2 separate regions of the Homo sapiens genome follow, and region 1 is linked to region 2. The links come from fine-mapping of genetic effects on gene expression. A gene starts in region 2. The other region holds a variant in brackets. All regions are shown on one strand. Distances are between the middles of the regions.

Region 1 (2,902 bases), 110 kb after region 2:
GCAATGATGGATTTGAAGGTGGTTTCTCATCTCAGAGAGTTCAAGTGCGGACCCAGTGCTTAGACACCCTCTGAGATGCAGGGTTGTGGATACTGGGACTGGCCACACATGGGAAGGGCGATCATGCATCTCTCAGAGGGTTAGTCCTCAGCTGTGTGTGCAGAGTACACAGAAGTTCTCCAGGAGGGTATGGGGAGGCCCTTCCAGGCAGAGAGAGCTGTACAGGCACAGATGTGTGAACGAGACATGAGTGTGTGTATGCATGCACATGAGATGGCGAGGAAGTGTTGGCTGTTCTGTTAGTGAGGGCAAAGTTAGCATGGTGAAGAATGAGGCAGAATGTTGCAAAACTTTCAACATTTCGGACATAAATCTCTTAACTATTCTCCAACATTCTGCAGCCTCCTTTGCCCTGGCAAACAGTCCACGGAACAAGAAGCCCTCTTTTGTCATACCAGAGTCAACCTTCGCACATGTCATGCCCAGACTTGATGCTAAGTCTTGGGAATCAGGCTGGGCCACCCGACCCTTCCCATCCAGTGAGGCACCAGCCCCCACCACCTACCTCCCCAGTAGGGCCCAGCTCGTGGAGACCTTCAGAGGCACAGGCAACACACCCTGTGATGACGTATAAAGAGGATACTTCCTTTAGCCACAGAAGAAATCCTTTTCTCAAGCCTGGATCCCCTGGGGAGAGCCCTCATCCCAGCCCCTGCTTAAGAGTCTGTGGGGTCACTGTGGCGGAATCATAACCTCACTGCGCGCTGAGCCTGTGAAAGGGAGGATGAGCGGCGCGGCACAGCCCTCCACACCTGTTCGCAGGCAGCTCTGTCAAGTTTAGGGACGTGAAAACACACAGCTCTCGAGGAATTTAAGATGTTCCCGTACTATATTTATTCTCTTATTTGTAAGGAAGCATTAGCATTTTCATTCAATTATATTTTTTAAAAAAAAGATTTTGGTATCCTACTGTGTTCCAGGCGCTAGGGATTTCCTGCGAAGGAAGACATTGCCCAGTCCCCAAGGAGGGGGCAGGCACAGGTGGGAGGTGAGAGGGACAGAGGTTTGTTCCTGTCTCACCTCCTCCTCCAAGGCCTTTCCCCCAATCCCATGCCTGCCAAGTCCCCTGGCTCCCACCCACTCACCCGCCCACCGAGGGTCCTGGCCCTCCCAGCCACCCTGGGCATCATCTCAGCCCTGAACACGTCTTCCTGCCTGGTGTTAATGGATTTTGCACGTGTGTCTGACCCCAGCAAGGCCAGATGCTTCTTGCTCAGCCAGGCACCCCGCAGCCAGAGGCCTGCGGCGCTGCCCTCGAGGTGTTTATGGATTAAGTGAATTAATGAATAAATGAATGAGGCACAAAGTGTTCTCTGAAGGTTACCATGGGCCCCTCGGAAAGATCCTGTGTCCTAGCAACTGTCCACGGCCTGGTGGCCCTCCCCAACCACCCGTC[C/GTCC]TCTTGCCACCTCTGATCTCTGGGTTCCAGGGGGTTACTGACCCCCTTGGACTTGCAAACAGGAGAGCCCTCAGGGTTGCAGCGATGCCTCCACCTGGTTCTTTCCCCACCAGAGCCCTCAGTTCCTTCACTAGGAATGTGGGGAGTAGCTGTGTCGGGACCATCTCCAGCACCCCCTGCTGCCACCTGCCCCTGCCCACCACCCGCAAGCACCTGGTTCCTCTGAGACGCTCTCCATGAGCCTGTTCCTATGGCAACACTGCACCTCCAGAGGCCCAAGCTGGCTGTCTGCAGCCAGGATCCAGCTAGGGACGGAGCGCAGGGGATGCCCAGTGTGAGTGGAACCCCATTCCCCTCACCCCCTCACCTCCTCACCCCACCCGGGGTTGCTTAGTACCCAAATTCAAGTTTGCTCTGTTTGTAATGAGCCTTAGTTTGATCCCTGCCCAGGTGTGTGTGTTTCTCCTCCCCCTCTAGCAGTGGGGGCTCTCCTCTCAGCCAGAGAGCTGGATGCTGGAGCGCAGAGAGGCTGAGCAATTCTCCATGGGTCACAGAGCAAGGAATTGGCAGAGCAAGACTAGAATGTTGGGGAGTGGTGCCCAGGCGGGAGGACTATAAAAGTTGACCATAAAATGTCCTTTGAGGAACCCTCAGATTCCTTCATTTAAATGGGTCTCTCCAAGGTCTGGCCAAAAAGCCCACAGACTGAAAACAGAAGAAACCGCGTCACAAGAATAGAGGTCCAGTTGGAGCCCAGCAGGGGCTGTCACTTCACTGCTTCAGAGAATTTGGGGAAACAGCAGGACTGTCTCCTGGGCTGGTCACGTCCTCTCCCCACCTTCATTTTCTCCTTCCTTCCTTCTCCCTGCACCGGATGCTGGTCTGCCAGTCTGCCTGCAGATGTGCACACTAAGGTCCAGCTCTCTCTACCTTCATCGCTCCAGAGCTGGGGCCGGGGTTAGAGCCCCACAGCCTCCCAGGTGTCCCCTCTGGAGGTCTCTCTGAAACGAGCATCTCCCATTTGTCCCCCTCAAACCTCCTCCAGGGCCTCCGCCACCCTGCAGTTGGCCCAGCGAGTGAGGGCTTAGACTCCTGGCTCCTATAGCTTTGCCCTTTCTCTGTGCAAATGGGCCCCAAGCTCCAGGCACTGTCACTCCCCAGTCGCTCTCCAGTCCATCTCCATAGCCCCATTCTTTTCACCGCCACCCTGGTCCAAGCCTCTCTCCCTAATGGCTGTATCAACCCTGGGCCTGCCTGTCACCCCCATCCTCTCGGCTACAGGCCAGGGGTCAGAGGGAGGTTTTCTAGACGCACCACTATCCCGAGCAACCTGCTACTTAAACCCTTCGCAGAAGGAAAAGAGAGAGAAAGGGGGCAGGAAAGAAGGAAGGAAGGGGAGGGGAGAGGAAGGAAGAGCAGGGAAGGGTGCCTCCTCAAATTCACTTC
Region 2 (2,902 bases):
AACTGTTCCCTCTTGGGTAAACGAATCCAGGATCCTCCAGTAGATCCCGCGCCCGACCCCCTCCATCAGGAGAACAAAGGCCACCTCCCCTCCCCACCCCGCCCCCCAAAATTCCGCAGTGCCGCCAGCGCCCTCTCGCGGCCAGCCAGGAAACCTTCCAGAAACCTGCCACGTAGCCACCCGCCTGCGCCCCCACCAGGCCCGCCGGCCCAGGGTGGGAGGGGGCGGCCTGGGGGGGCTTGACTCTGACAAAGGAAATGGCAAAAGGCGATTTGACCAAAAGTCCAAGACTGCAACATGTCAGGATTTTCGAGCGACCACCACGCAACGCTCTGAAGACCCCCGCGGCACCCCATCCCCAGCTCCCAGCGTCCAGACCCCAGCAACACACCCCCTTTTCTGCATTTCTCTCCTCCCTCTTCCCAGACCCAAGGACACGGCCTTCTCTCCTCCCCAACCCACCCCCTGCATCTATTCTCCCAGTGCCCCCAATCCCACGACCCCCCTTCGGCAAGGACTGATCCTAGGGGGCTACTGGCAGGTTTGCACTTGGGCGCCATCTCTCTCCACTGTGAAAGTGGCTGATCAGGGCAGAACCAGATGATATCGGGTAGAAATTTTACTCCACATTTTGCCTGGGGTCCACACTGCACTAAACCTGTGTATTTGGATTCGGAAAACCTCGCGAAGAGGAACCTCCACTCCTCCCGCCCACGATCCACCAAAAACCTGGCCAACAGCTGGCGAGGCAAATATGCCCGGGAGACCCTTCTATTCGGGTGCTTCCCCCCCTAATTCATGGGGCACGCAGAAGGCATCGCCGCCATATCTCCCACTATTAACGCGATTCTAGAGGCGGCTTCTAATACAGGAAATCCGGGGTTCGCCCCCCAGTGACTGCCGTATACCCGAATCCAAGAGGAGTTCCATCTGATTCCTCCCGCTCCTCTGAACTGAAGTCCCTACCACCCAGCCCACCCTTAAGGACTGGACCCTCCAGAGAGGAGCCCTGACTTCCCCCCAGGGAAATGTGCCTCAAGATTTTCTTTCTGACAAATTTTGTTGCGGACGCTCGGGGACCAGGCGAAGTGGCCGCCTCCAGCAGCAGGACCCAGGATCAGGCAGGCTCTCGGCATGTCCAGGAGGACAGAGCCCATCCCAGAAGCGGATGCCGTCTTCCTTTTGCACATCCTTTGCGGCAAGGATGGCCAACCACTCACCGGGTGAGGGATCCTCTCGTGGGCGCCCCAGCTCTCCTGAGGAGCCGCCGCCAAGGCCAGCGAGCCAAGGCGCGCTCCCTCTCTGCTCTCCGCCGTCTGCGCTAGGGGCTGGCTGGGTGGGGTTTATATGGAGGCGCAGAAGGGGTGGTCTCTGACGTCAGCGCATTCTGCTGCAATGCGCTCATTTCTCTAAAAGTGATTGGCCGGAAAAATGAGCCCCCCAGATTCTATGACAAATTGCTCTAGCCGCACCCAGATTGCAGCAAAGAAGGGAGGAAAAAATTCTGCCGCAGTGCCCCTGGCCGCCATGACCAACACCCTGTGGTCGCGGGTGCTTTTTCCCTGCGTGAGCCCGGCTCGCCAGGCAGGGTGAATTCAGGCACAATGTGTGGGGGGAATCGCCCCGATGGCTGGCCGTCCTCAGGCGGCCGATGGCCAAGGTGGGGCTGTCGGGGCGCAGATCCCACACCTGGCGGTTTCGGAACATCCATCGGAGGATGCGGGCTTAGCGAAAGAAAATCATGCTTTCTCTTATTGTTCAGGAAAATAAAATGCCCGGGCGACATAACTGGTTCCCAGATGTAAGCCAGAGGCTGTCACCCCCTCCCAGCCCACCCGTGCGTTTCTGACTGGTTCTCTTTGACATGGGAGACAGAGCTCCGCGTCTCCGAGTCAGAAAACCCTGGCTGTGGAGTCCCGGGCTCTGCCGCTTACAACTCATGTTCGCGGAACCCGCTATGCCCCTTCCTCTTCCACTGGGTCCGCTTCCTCCACCTTAACCAGGGGTACCCCCCACCACACACACCAGGGTTGTAATAAGAATCCAGACAGGAGCCGTGCCCTCTAAGGAAAGTACTTTTAGAGGGCGGACTGTGTCCCATGTGGAGATGCCTGAGCTACCCCTCAAAGTTGGGGTGATCCCCACACACATGCCCTTTGAAAGAGCCCCAGCGCCCCGAAAAACAGGCAGCGACACATGTTGCGCCGAGCCCTGCCGCGGCCTCGGCTCCGGAGCTGGCACATGGGAGTTAATCCCTAACAGGTGGGAGCCCTCGGCAGCTCTGCCCGGCTCTGAGTGGCAGAGCGTGCAGGGCCGTCAATCAAATGTCCTCTCGCAAAGGTCAAAATGCTGTTGAAAGGGACCGAGGATCTATCTTAGGGTGACAGGTGGGTGGCAGCCAGGAGGACAAGGATGGAGTGCTCGGTGACAGAAAGCAGGTGAGGATGAGCAAGGGGCCCCAAAGAGGACAGCAGAGAGGCCCCGCCGAGGGCATCAAGTCAGAATCGCTCCCCCGCACTTCTTTGGGGGGTTTAAGCGGCGTCAGAGGGAGCCCCCCATGCCCAACGATCCCACAAGGTGACTGTAAAGCAGACGGGAGATTCCAGGGCTGAAAAGAAGGGAGAAAGGCTATTTCTACGTCCACAGCTAATGACTAGGGAGGTGAACATTGACCGTCAGGTCACTAGAGGCGCCGAGCCTTGGGACGGCGTGTGGGGGGCTCGTTTTTTCATAAACAGGCGCACTGTTGGGGAGATAGAGACGTGGGACGTTGGGGTCCTCATGGGGCGCTGCTTTAATATGTCAGGTAACACGAAGGAGAAAGAAAACACCCCCTTTACAGCCTGTGGAGCTTGCCAGGAGCCCCAGGGACTAGAGCCCCGGAAGCAGGCCTTGCACAGCA

Alleles and levels. Alleles are on the strand shown, and positions count from the first base shown. SD is a standard deviation of normalised expression in the study named.
In carriers of allele C in region 1, the expression in adrenal gland of the gene that starts at base 1,320 in region 2 tends to be higher than with GTCC alone (small effect, 0.29 SD a copy in GTEx).

Evidence for each region. PIP is the estimated chance that this variant, and not a neighbour inherited with it, causes the effect.
Region 1: its variant is the best candidate, but not a certain one, in a credible set for the expression of MEG3 in adrenal gland (GTEx, PIP 0.84).

The regions. Positions count from the first base shown.
Region 1 is chr14:100,718,550-100,721,451 of GRCh38, reverse strand. No RefSeq gene overlaps it. Among named protein-coding and RNA genes, the nearest start is that of DLK1, 6.9 kb to the left of the region's middle. The variant C/GTCC (reference allele first, on the strand shown) is at 1,457.
Region 2 is chr14:100,824,536-100,827,437 of GRCh38, reverse strand. MEG3 (maternally expressed 3) reads right to left here and starts at 1,320. Exons shown (of 10, transcript NR_190993.1): 1 at 1,221-1,320.